Homo sapiens: one gene and its partners. The protein of the gene in region 3 purifies or fractionates together with the protein of the main gene of each other region. This does not show direct contact. Each region holds a gene or a part of one and is shown on either strand. Other genes may lie near its edges. The genes, in order: KDR, RIPK1 and TNFRSF25.

What was found.
Region 1: the proteins of TNFRSF25 (region 3) and KDR purify together in Homo sapiens (affinity purification with western blotting; one study listed by BioGRID). This does not show direct contact.
Region 2: the proteins of TNFRSF25 (region 3) and RIPK1 purify together in Homo sapiens (affinity purification with western blotting, with the first as the bait; one study listed by BioGRID). This does not show direct contact.

What each region holds. Positions count from the first base shown.
Region 1 is NC_000004.12:55,101,554-55,105,205, reverse strand, and holds part of KDR (vascular endothelial growth factor receptor 2 precursor), read left to right. Parts: intron 1-221; coding exon 222-563; intron 564-2,697; coding exon 2,698-2,844; intron 2,845-3,177; coding exon 3,178-3,309; intron 3,310-3,652. UniProt on the Homo sapiens protein: Tyrosine-protein kinase that acts as a cell-surface receptor for VEGFA, VEGFC and VEGFD. Plays an essential role in the regulation of angiogenesis, vascular development, vascular permeability, and embryonic hematopoiesis.
Region 2 is NC_000006.12:3,081,951-3,085,602, forward strand, and holds part of RIPK1 (receptor-interacting serine/threonine-protein kinase 1), read left to right. Parts: exon of another isoform or gene 1-710; intron 711-1,134; coding exon 1,135-1,363; intron 1,364-3,308; coding exon 3,309-3,458; intron 3,459-3,652. UniProt on the Homo sapiens protein: Serine-threonine kinase which is a key regulator of TNF-mediated apoptosis, necroptosis and inflammatory pathways.
Region 3 is NC_000001.11:6,460,212-6,463,251, reverse strand, and holds the end of TNFRSF25 (tumor necrosis factor receptor superfamily member 25 isoform 2 precursor), read left to right. Parts: intron 1-104; coding exon of another isoform or gene 105-124; coding exon 125-180; coding exon of another isoform or gene 181-187; intron 188-281; coding exon 282-389; intron 390-585; coding exon 586-623; intron 624-1,077; coding exon 1,078-1,258; intron 1,259-1,489; coding exon 1,490-1,818; 3' UTR 1,819-2,066; coding exon of another isoform or gene 2,067-2,072; 3' UTR 2,073-2,466; downstream 2,467-3,040. UniProt on the Homo sapiens protein: Receptor for TNFSF12/APO3L/TWEAK. Interacts directly with the adapter TRADD. Mediates activation of NF-kappa-B and induces apoptosis. May play a role in regulating lymphocyte homeostasis.

The DNA of each region.
Region 1 (3,652 bases), on a different chromosome or scaffold from region 3:
ATATCTGAGGAATTCGTTTACATTTTCAAGTAATGTGTTTGGCCAAATAAGATATTTTGGGACCTGAATTGTCTAGTTTGTTTGTCAAGTTGTAGTACATCACCTGGAACGGATAGAGCTTCATTTCTTTTGGTACTTTGTAGTAGTCTGAAAGCAGCAAGATGATAGTGAGCTGTACCAAGTTAAATCACCATTCAATAACTATGGCCTCTTCATTTTAGGGGGTCCTGAAATTACTTTGCAACCTGACATGCAGCCCACTGAGCAGGAGAGCGTGTCTTTGTGGTGCACTGCAGACAGATCTACGTTTGAGAACCTCACATGGTACAAGCTTGGCCCACAGCCTCTGCCAATCCATGTGGGAGAGTTGCCCACACCTGTTTGCAAGAACTTGGATACTCTTTGGAAATTGAATGCCACCATGTTCTCTAATAGCACAAATGACATTTTGATCATGGAGCTTAAGAATGCATCCTTGCAGGACCAAGGAGACTATGTCTGCCTTGCTCAAGACAGGAAGACCAAGAAAAGACATTGCGTGGTCAGGCAGCTCACAGTCCTAGGTAGGGAGACAATTCTGGATCATTGTGCAGAGGCAGTTGGAATGCCTTAAATGTAGTGCAATTCAGGTGCTATGCAAAGATTACTGTCCTCTAGGAGATTATGTTGTAAACTGGTGCACACTTCTTCACCGAAAGTCCTTGAGGAAGAAAGAAGCTAATAATAATGAAATGATATATCGAAAGGAGAAAATAACAAAACCTGATGATGGAGTAATTCACTAGTATATGCAAGGGATATTAGCTTGAACCAGGGAAACTTCTGCCTTATCTTGGGCATCCATTTATTTAAATAGACAAATATTTGTGGAATGCCTGCTATGAGCTAGGAGAGTGTCAGAAATTCACAGTGGTAAACATGAAGGAAAGGAGGAGAACATAGGCAACCACTGGGAAGTCACAGCACAGTGAGGTCTCTGTGTCCATGAGAACAGGAATTGTTCTCTGTTTTGCTCCCTGCTATAGCTCTAGTCATAGAGCATAGCAGCATATACTAACTGCTCAATAAGGCACCTGCTGCATGAAGAGTGGGATGATGGGCTGCGTTTAAGACCTAGAAGACTCCATGGGAAGGAAGCTACATTCACTGTCTGTACCTCTGGGTCATCCCACATGATCCAGCGTAGCCCAAGGTCAATGGGACGATCACTTCAGTGAGCAGATAGCTCTGTAAATTCCTCCATAGAGGCACTGTCTACCCCTTGTCTAACCTCATGCCTTGTGCAAAAGCTGGGCAGCCATGGCTTTGTCTGTGGGAAAATCAGGCAAATTTGGGGAGCGTCTCTTTGTGCCACTTCTCTCCATTTTCTCCTCTTGTGGTGTCCCTTTCCAATTCCTAGGATATATGTGCCCTCTGTTTTTTTTTTACTGTTAGGAAGGAAATTGCCCAAGTAAATTCATCTATACCACAGTTTTAGAGGGTAACGTCTTCATCAGAGGCCTTGGCGTATTTGAAGAGGCACCTTCTGACAGACACTAGCATAAAGTTCGCTAGTTTTAAGACTCAGGTGTCATAATAAGAGATACTTTGGGGTCAAGTCATCCCCAGCATCCTTCAAGTCACACCACATAGATCACATGGATTTTCTGTTGGCTTGTCTGGCTTCAAGGTTATGGCAGAATTGAGAAAGAGATGTGAAGTAGGCTCCTGGCCTAGCTGTGCCCAGAAAATATGTGCTCGCAGTTAGCTGCTTTGCTTCCCTAAGGACTCCTAACTTGTTTTCCTAAAACCTATTCTTAGAAATAGGCTAGAATCCAGTACATTTGCTTAGACTTCAATGTAGTACGCTGTTGAGGTAATCTCATTTTGCTAAGTGTTGACGTGGATTTTTTCAGCATGATTCCTTTTGATGTTCAGTTGGTTGGGACAAGATATTTCCACAGCACTTTGATGATCTGAAGAAAGAATAAATCTAAAGTGTTCTTGTACACTTAAACAAATACTCATGGGCTTCATTTTCTTTAAATCCAAGACTTCCCTTAGGGTATTGTTGTTTTGTTTGTGTTTTAGTGGAAATAGCACTGAACTGGTCTTTTAGCCTCACCAGATTCTGTAAACAGTTCAACTGTTTACTTAGTTGCAGGGACATGGACAAGTGGTTTAATGTCGCTGAACATCATTTATTTCATCTGTGAGATAACGCTAACAGTCCTATTCTGCTCATTACATAAGATCACTAGTGAGGAACACAAATTGTGTAAACAAGTTTTATAAGAATTGCCAAATAAATGTAAGGCATTATTGGTTGAATGATACTAAAATTTGGCACTTCCAAGAGAAATTTGAAGGGATTCTAGGGTATTATTGACTAGAATCTTCATGGGAGGGAAGTTTTCACCTGGGGAGGCTGTGTCTAATTAGAGGAAAAATCCATAAAGGTGACCCTGAACCTTTCTTTTGTGATGGGATTACCAGCTAGTATCACTAATATGAATGTTAAAAGCCATTAATCTGTTTGCAGTGTCCTGACTGACTTGTTTCATTTAACTTTACCCAGTGACCAGTGTATTTTCCCAGAAGTTAATATATCAACAAGTTCCTTTTTACTAAATTTAAACTGTTTAAAAGTTTGCTGATACCAGAACCATTTCAAAAGTTATAATTCCATGTTCTGTGATTTTCTTTTTGTGTGTCTAGAGCGTGTGGCACCCACGATCACAGGAAACCTGGAGAATCAGACGACAAGTATTGGGGAAAGCATCGAAGTCTCATGCACGGCATCTGGGAATCCCCCTCCACAGATCATGTGGTTTAAAGATAATGAGACCCTTGTAGAAGACTCAGGTAAATAGAATTTGGCTATCACTCTTGGGTTGCAGAACTTTCCCAGGGATGTTATCTAAAAAGCCATATTATTTCTTGATGTAATGTAGAAAAAAAGCAGTATTGGTGTCCATGACCTGGCTCATTTCACAGACTTAGAATTGGAGTATGGGGCCCTGTTGAATTTTCATGAAAGCCATATAGGAGATTAGTCAGCAGTAGATCCCATGTGACTCTACAGAGTTAGATAATAGAACAAGATGAAGGGCAGCATTTATATTTTCTAAATTTCCCTGAAAAACTTCACAGACTACATCATCATAAATGAGAATGATCGTTTTCTTCCTCTGTTAGGCATTGTATTGAAGGATGGGAACCGGAACCTCACTATCCGCAGAGTGAGGAAGGAGGACGAAGGCCTCTACACCTGCCAGGCATGCAGTGTTCTTGGCTGTGCAAAAGTGGAGGCATTTTTCATAATAGAAGGTCAGTGGGATAAAAAAAAATGTGGTACATATACACCATGGAATGCTATGCAGCCGTAAAAAGGAATCTGATCATGTCCTTTGCAGCTGCATGGATGGAGCTGGAAGCCATTATCCTCAGCAAACTAACACAGGAACAGAAAACCAAACGCCACACATTCTCACTTATAAGTGGGAGCTGAACAATGTGAACACATAGACACAGGGAAGGGAACAACACACACTGGGGCCTACTGTGGGTTGGGGAGAAGGAGAGCATCAGGAAAAATAGCTAATGCATGCTGGGCTTAATACCTAGGAGATGGATTAATAGGTGCAGCAAATCACCATGGCACATGTTTACC
Region 2 (3,652 bases), on a different chromosome or scaffold from region 3:
TTGTATTCGATTGTTTACTTCTGTCTGTATTTTAAAAATCAGTTTCCTTTGAACACATTCTTTCCATTGTCGTAAAGGGAACAAGGGAAAGGGATTTTTCTTTTGTTCATTCAAGGGCAGGATTTAGCTAGGGGGAGTGTCATATCTAATTGGCTTCTGCAGCAGGAATCCAAGCACAAGAATCCAAAAGGGGAAGCGGAAGGGGAAGCAGCCCTGGGGGAGGCACCCAGGAGCTGCTGACACAGGGGCCTCTCATCACCAGCAGGTTCTGCGTCTAGCGCTTTGTCCTAGTCTTGGACAAAGGGCTGGGAATAAAAATTCCTTATTCATAACCTATCTTCAAATTCATGACTTCCCTCTTATGTCGTGGGTTAGAATCTGTGAATTTTAGGTACTCATGTGCCACAGTTCATCCCCACATGCTTGCTTGGATTCCTGGAGGCAGAAGTGGAACTGGCACCTATATTCTCTTCTGAACTGTGCTGCCCTGTCATTTTGCCCTGCCAGCACTGTTCTTGTTCTGTGTCTGACCTTGCTATTTTTCTCTCTGCTTTTTTGTCTGTTTTTCTCCTCCTTTCCACCCTATCTCCTCTTAGGTTCAGGCTACAGCTCAAAACAAGCAACACTGCAGTCCTTATCCTCAGTGTGTCTTTGGGATCCTTGGACACTTGCATCCATGGGCCTCTGGACGCCATTTGGGGAAATAGAAGGTGTAGTATTTAGCCACTGTCTGCTGCATAAATGTGCAGAGAAGAAAATAACCATTTTCCCCCCAAGCCCTAGAAATAGTTGAAAAACATACGCAGAGTCAATGGGGAATGAGAATAAATATGTTTGGTTGTTACTGTTCTTGTCAGAAACATCTTCCGCTTTTCCCCTCCCCCTTACTGCATAAGGAATACGATACCAGAATTTCATGTGAACGTTTCCTGGGCGACATTTTACAAATGGCTGAGGAGACACACAGTTTCTATGAGTCTGTTGAGAAGTCGCTGTTTTGAACCTGCCCAGTGCAACCATTTCTGGAAAATTTACCGTACCTTATGTATAATGGATAAGCCCAAAATTGAAAGTCAGATCTGATTTGCTTACGGCCTTCACCAAACAATCCCAGTGGCTCAATGTCTTTCGCAGATCGCAGACCTCGGCCTTGCCTCCTTTAAGATGTGGAGCAAACTGAATAATGAAGAGCACAATGAGCTGAGGGAAGTGGACGGCACCGCTAAGAAGAATGGCGGCACCCTCTACTACATGGCGCCCGAGCACCTGAATGACGTCAACGCAAAGCCCACAGAGAAGTCGGATGTGTACAGCTTTGCTGTAGTACTCTGGGCGATATTTGCAAATAAGGAGCCATATGAAAGTAAGGCATTACTTACTTTCCACTGCCGTCCCCTCAGCATCTACACGCACTGTGCCTGGAACTAATAGGTGCCCAGTAAATTTTTGTTGAATGAATGAGTAATCCCATTTAGGAATCAGTGATCATAGGATGAATAGGAACCTCGATAGTGTGTCATTAGCTGGAGAGGTGCTGTGAAATTCCAGGGTTCTTCCTAGACAGGAAAGTTGATTGTTTCTGCTTGTGAGGACTTAGCCTTTCACACTACAAGGCATACACTTCATACTTTCACTCATTCACTTGCTCCTTCATTCAAGAATTATTTCTTTTCAGTCCCTACTGTGGGCACTTGAGTCGGCATTGGGAATATAAAGATGAGTAAGTCGTGGCTTGTGTAGGATAGAGACACTCTGCAGTTTGTTAAGTGCATAAACTGATGGATGTTGTCCTACATACTCTTCTTGGGTGATCATCAGCTCCCATGGTTTGATGATCATCTCTTTGCAAATGCTTCTTAAATCTGTGTCTCTGGCTCTGGAATGGATATCCACTTGTCTTACAGTCAGATCCATCGCAGGTACCAGAGGAACCTCCAAAGCAGCATCCCCCAAACACATCCTGTCGACACTGTCCTGCAGCTCGCCCCGCTTCACCCCTCTTCATATGCTTGGGAAGTGGCATCGCCATCCTTTTACCAAGTTGTTGCCCAATAAGAAACTTCAGAGTCATCCCAGACTCGCCCTTGCCCCTCTCTCCCACATTCTATCAGATCTCAAAACCTGTGAATTCAAGATATATGTATGACTCAAGATATATCTGCAACCCATCTGCCTTTCTCTGTCTCCACTGGCCTCTGCTCAGTTCAAACCCTCCTCGTTTCTGCAGCAGGCTCCTTCCACCGTCCACCATTCATGTGGCAGCCAAAATGGTCGTCCTAAAAGGCACATGCAACCCTCTCCCTCACATATTGGAAATCCTTCCCAGATGCTCTGTGGTCTTCAGGATGAAGTTCGAATTCCTCAGCGTGGAATAAAAGGCCTTCATGTTCTGGCCTTTGCTTCTCTACTGGCCTCGTCCCTAACCCTCCCTTCTTTGTCAGTGTGCAGTTACACTGAGGAATTTGTGGGATGCGTCATGATCTCTGTAACTTCTAGTCTGTTGATATCCTGCTTCTCTTCCTGGAGTCCTCCTCCTTAAGTCTCCCTTTCCCATTCTTTACCTGCTAATTTTTCTGGACTCAACAAAGCCTTCCTGGACCTTTTTAGTCAGGTTTGTGCTACTGGAACCCCTTGTACATCCTTTTTTTTTTTTTTTTCCCGTGAGACAGAGTCTCATTCTGTCGCCAGGTTGGAGTGCAGTGGTGCAGTCTCGGCTCACTGCAGCCTCCACCTCCCAGGTTCAAGCAATTCTTCTGCCTCAGCCTCCCGAGTAGCTGGGACTACAGGTGCACACCACCATGCCCAGCTAATTTTTATATTTTTAGTAGAGACGGGGTTTCACCATGTTGGCCAGGATGGTCTTGATCTCTTGACGTCATGATCCGCCTGTCTCAACCTCCCAAAGTGCTGGGATTACAGGTGTGATCCACCATGCCCAGCCTCAGCCTTCTTGAATAGCAATGATCACTCTGTGTTTTAAGTCACTCTCATTAAACTGAGCTCCTAAAGACAAGGACTGCCCTGTATTTGCTTTTGCACATGGAGCATGCCATTGGCCTTGCCCACATAATCTTTTTGTTCCATCAGCAGGCAGCTTTGTCGAGAATTTTGTTTTATCTGCAGACATTAAGATATTGTTTGGTCATCTCTGTAGTGGAATATGTCAGCTCCTTGTCATAAGGCCATTCCACTCTATGGAATGAGGCAGCTGTACCAGAGGCTGAGAAAAATGAGCAGTATTGTTCAAGTTCTGTCACCTTCCTGCCTGAGAGAGGAGCAAGACCTGAAAGAAAGTCTTTGCTTTGTAGATGCTATCTGTGAGCAGCAGTTGATAATGTGCATAAAATCTGGGAACAGGCCAGATGTGGATGACATCACTGAGTACTGCCCAAGAGAAATTATCAGTCTCATGAAGCTCTGCTGGGAAGCGAATCCGGAAGCTCGGCCGACATTTCCTGGTAAGAGCATCTTTTCTGACTGTGTAGGATGCATCCTGTGTGGTGATTTTCCTAGTAACATATTGTTAGGAACTTGGTTTGAATCCTCAGAAAACTGAGTTCGACTTGACTTGTGGTTTTAAACTGATTTTCTAGATTTCAAACATGTTATTCAGTGCAAAGAAGCCCTCTCTCTCAAAAGCATGATGGCACAT
Region 3 (3,040 bases):
CTTGGGTAGAGTGAGAGGCCTGGGGAGGGAAGGGTCTCTAGGATGGAGCAGATGCTGGGCAGTCTTAGGGAGCCCCTCCTGGCATGCACCCCCTCATCCCTCAGGCCACCCCCGTCCCTTGCAGGAGCACCCTGGGGAGCTGTCCAGAGCGCTGTGCCGCTGTCTGTGGCTGGAGGCAGAGTAGGTGGTGTGCTGGGAATGCGAGTGGGAGAACTGGGATGGACCGAGGGGAGGCGGGTGAGGAGGGGGGCAACCACCCAACACCCACCAGCTGCTTTCAGTGTTCTGGGTCCAGGTGCTCCTGGCTGGCCTTGTGGTCCCCCTCCTGCTTGGGGCCACCCTGACCTACACATACCGCCACTGCTGGCCTCACAAGCCCCTGGTTACTGGTAAGTACACACACCCACACACGCACCCAGAAGCCTGGGGTCAGGATGGGTAGCCCAGAGTCTACTCAACCCTGATACAGAAGGGGAAACTGAGGCAGGGAGTGTGGGGTGCAGAGGAACCCTAGAGGAGCTGTACCAGCACCCAGGTCCAGGAGGCTTGCCTGGTGGCTGACCGCAATCTCTCTGTGTCTGTCAGCAGATGAAGCTGGGATGGAGGCTCTGACCCCACCACCGGTAAGAACCTCACTGTGTGATTCTGGGCTGCCTTCTGGAGCTGGAAGATCAAGCCTTACTATGATCCCTGGAGCTTGGCACGCGGCCAGCACCGGGTAGCCCTAGTGGACAGAGGTGTTGGGAGCAGAGTCATCAGTGGATGAGACCAGCACAGTGCCTGCCCTCAAGGGGTGCTCAGTCAGCTGGAGTTCAGATTCGTACACAGGAGCTAACAGTTCAATGGAAGGAGAGCCCCATGGTGCTGGGGGACAAGAGGAAGGAGGCGGGGGCAGGGGACTCAAGGCAGAAGCAAGAGTTCTGCTGGGCTACAGTGAGAGCAGGGCCAACTGTGGGAGGTGTCATTGCGGGGGTGTCTGCTGACTGAACCAGGGACTGTCCCCTCCTGGAGAGGCACTGCGGGTAAGGGGCCTTACTTGGCAAGCAGGGCTGACCTGGGGCCCCTCTTGGCTTCCAGGCCACCCATCTGTCACCCTTGGACAGCGCCCACACCCTTCTAGCACCTCCTGACAGCAGTGAGAAGATCTGCACCGTCCAGTTGGTGGGTAACAGCTGGACCCCTGGCTACCCCGAGACCCAGGAGGCGCTCTGCCCGCAGGTGACATGGTCCTGGGACCAGTTGCCCAGCAGAGCTCTTGGTAAGGGACATCAGTGGCCTGAGGCCTTGACCCCATTCTCCTGTCTGCGGTGGGAAGTTGTGGTTTCACAACGTGTTCCCTTTCTGCCCCCTAACTGACGGAGTCCGCCCTATGCCCTGACCCACCGGATCCAGCGGGCTTCAGCCCTGGGGTACCCGCACGAACGCCCCTGACTCTGCCTCCCGACCGCGGCCCACGTACCCCAATTGGCTCTCTCTGGCCCTGCCCCAGGCCCCGCTGCTGCGCCCACACTCTCGCCAGAGTCCCCAGCCGGCTCGCCAGCCATGATGCTGCAGCCGGGCCCGCAGCTCTACGACGTGATGGACGCGGTCCCAGCGCGGCGCTGGAAGGAGTTCGTGCGCACGCTGGGGCTGCGCGAGGCAGAGATCGAAGCCGTGGAGGTGGAGATCGGCCGCTTCCGAGACCAGCAGTACGAGATGCTCAAGCGCTGGCGCCAGCAGCAGCCCGCGGGCCTCGGAGCCGTTTACGCGGCCCTGGAGCGCATGGGGCTGGACGGCTGCGTGGAAGACTTGCGCAGCCGCCTGCAGCGCGGCCCGTGACACGGCGCCCACTTGCCACCTAGGCGCTCTGGTGGCCCTTGCAGAAGCCCTAAGTACGGTTACTTATGCGTGTAGACATTTTATGTCACTTATTAAGCCGCTGGCACGGCCCTGCGTAGCAGCACCAGCCGGCCCCACCCCTGCTCGCCCCTATCGCTCCAGCCAAGGCGAAGAAGCACGAACGAATGTCGAGAGGGGGTGAAGACATTTCTCAACTTCTCGGCCGGAGTTTGGCTGAGATCGCGGTATTAAATCTGTGAAAGAAAACAAAACAAAACAAAAACGGCTTCTTGGCGTTTCTGCGGGGCTGGGGTGTTAAGTGGACTGGACTTTTCTCGAGGGATTCGAAGGGGACGGGAATCTTGTCACCCCGGGATCTGGCACCCATGGTGGAGTCCAGTGTGGCCTTAGCTCCCAAGCCTGCCCCTCCCGAGTCCACTCTGGCTCAATTACCCCGAGAAGGAGAGAGCAAGTCGCGGCCACAGCGAGTGAGTGAACCGGAGCCCAGATGAGAGCGCTTTAATGGGGCTGCGAGGTGGCGGAGACAGGGTCGGGATGGGGTGCAGCAGTTGGAGACACAGGGTCAGGGCCCCTCATCCTCTATTCACTCCACCGGGGCAGTGAAAGGGTCCCGGCAGCGAGTGGGTCTGGCTGGGGACGGGGCGCAGACTTGAGGGAGGTGGGGCCAGAGGTGGGGTCCCGGGGGCCACAAGTGCGGCCCGGCCAGACAGGCAGTTTTCATGTTTCTGGTAAACAAATGACTGAGAGGAAACCCTTGGCGGGGATAAGAAATGAGGCCCGGGCTAGGCCGCGCGCAGATCTGGGTCAGAGAGGAAGGGAAAACCCCTTCCCCGAGCTCGGGGCCTGCCTCCACCCAGGATGCGCCAGCGACGCCGGTTCCGGGGTGCGGGGGAGGGGGCTGCATCCTGGAGGGGGCTGAGCCCCGCAGGAAAACAAAGTCACCACCCACGGGGCTGGGGAGAGCTCTGCACTCTTTGATAGTCAACGAACATGCAAATATATGTAAGTCGGCATGCAAATAAGCAGCATTTGTTGTTGTTTGCGTCAGCAGCTTGGGCACTTTTTCTGGGCAACCGTGGCGGCGTGTGCACTCCAGTGTTGCCAAGGGCTGGGGATACGGGGGGCCAGGGTGGGGGTCAGGGAGGGTTTCCAGCGCAGGAGGGGAGGGCTGTGCGGCTCCCAGCCTTTCCACCAGGGCCTG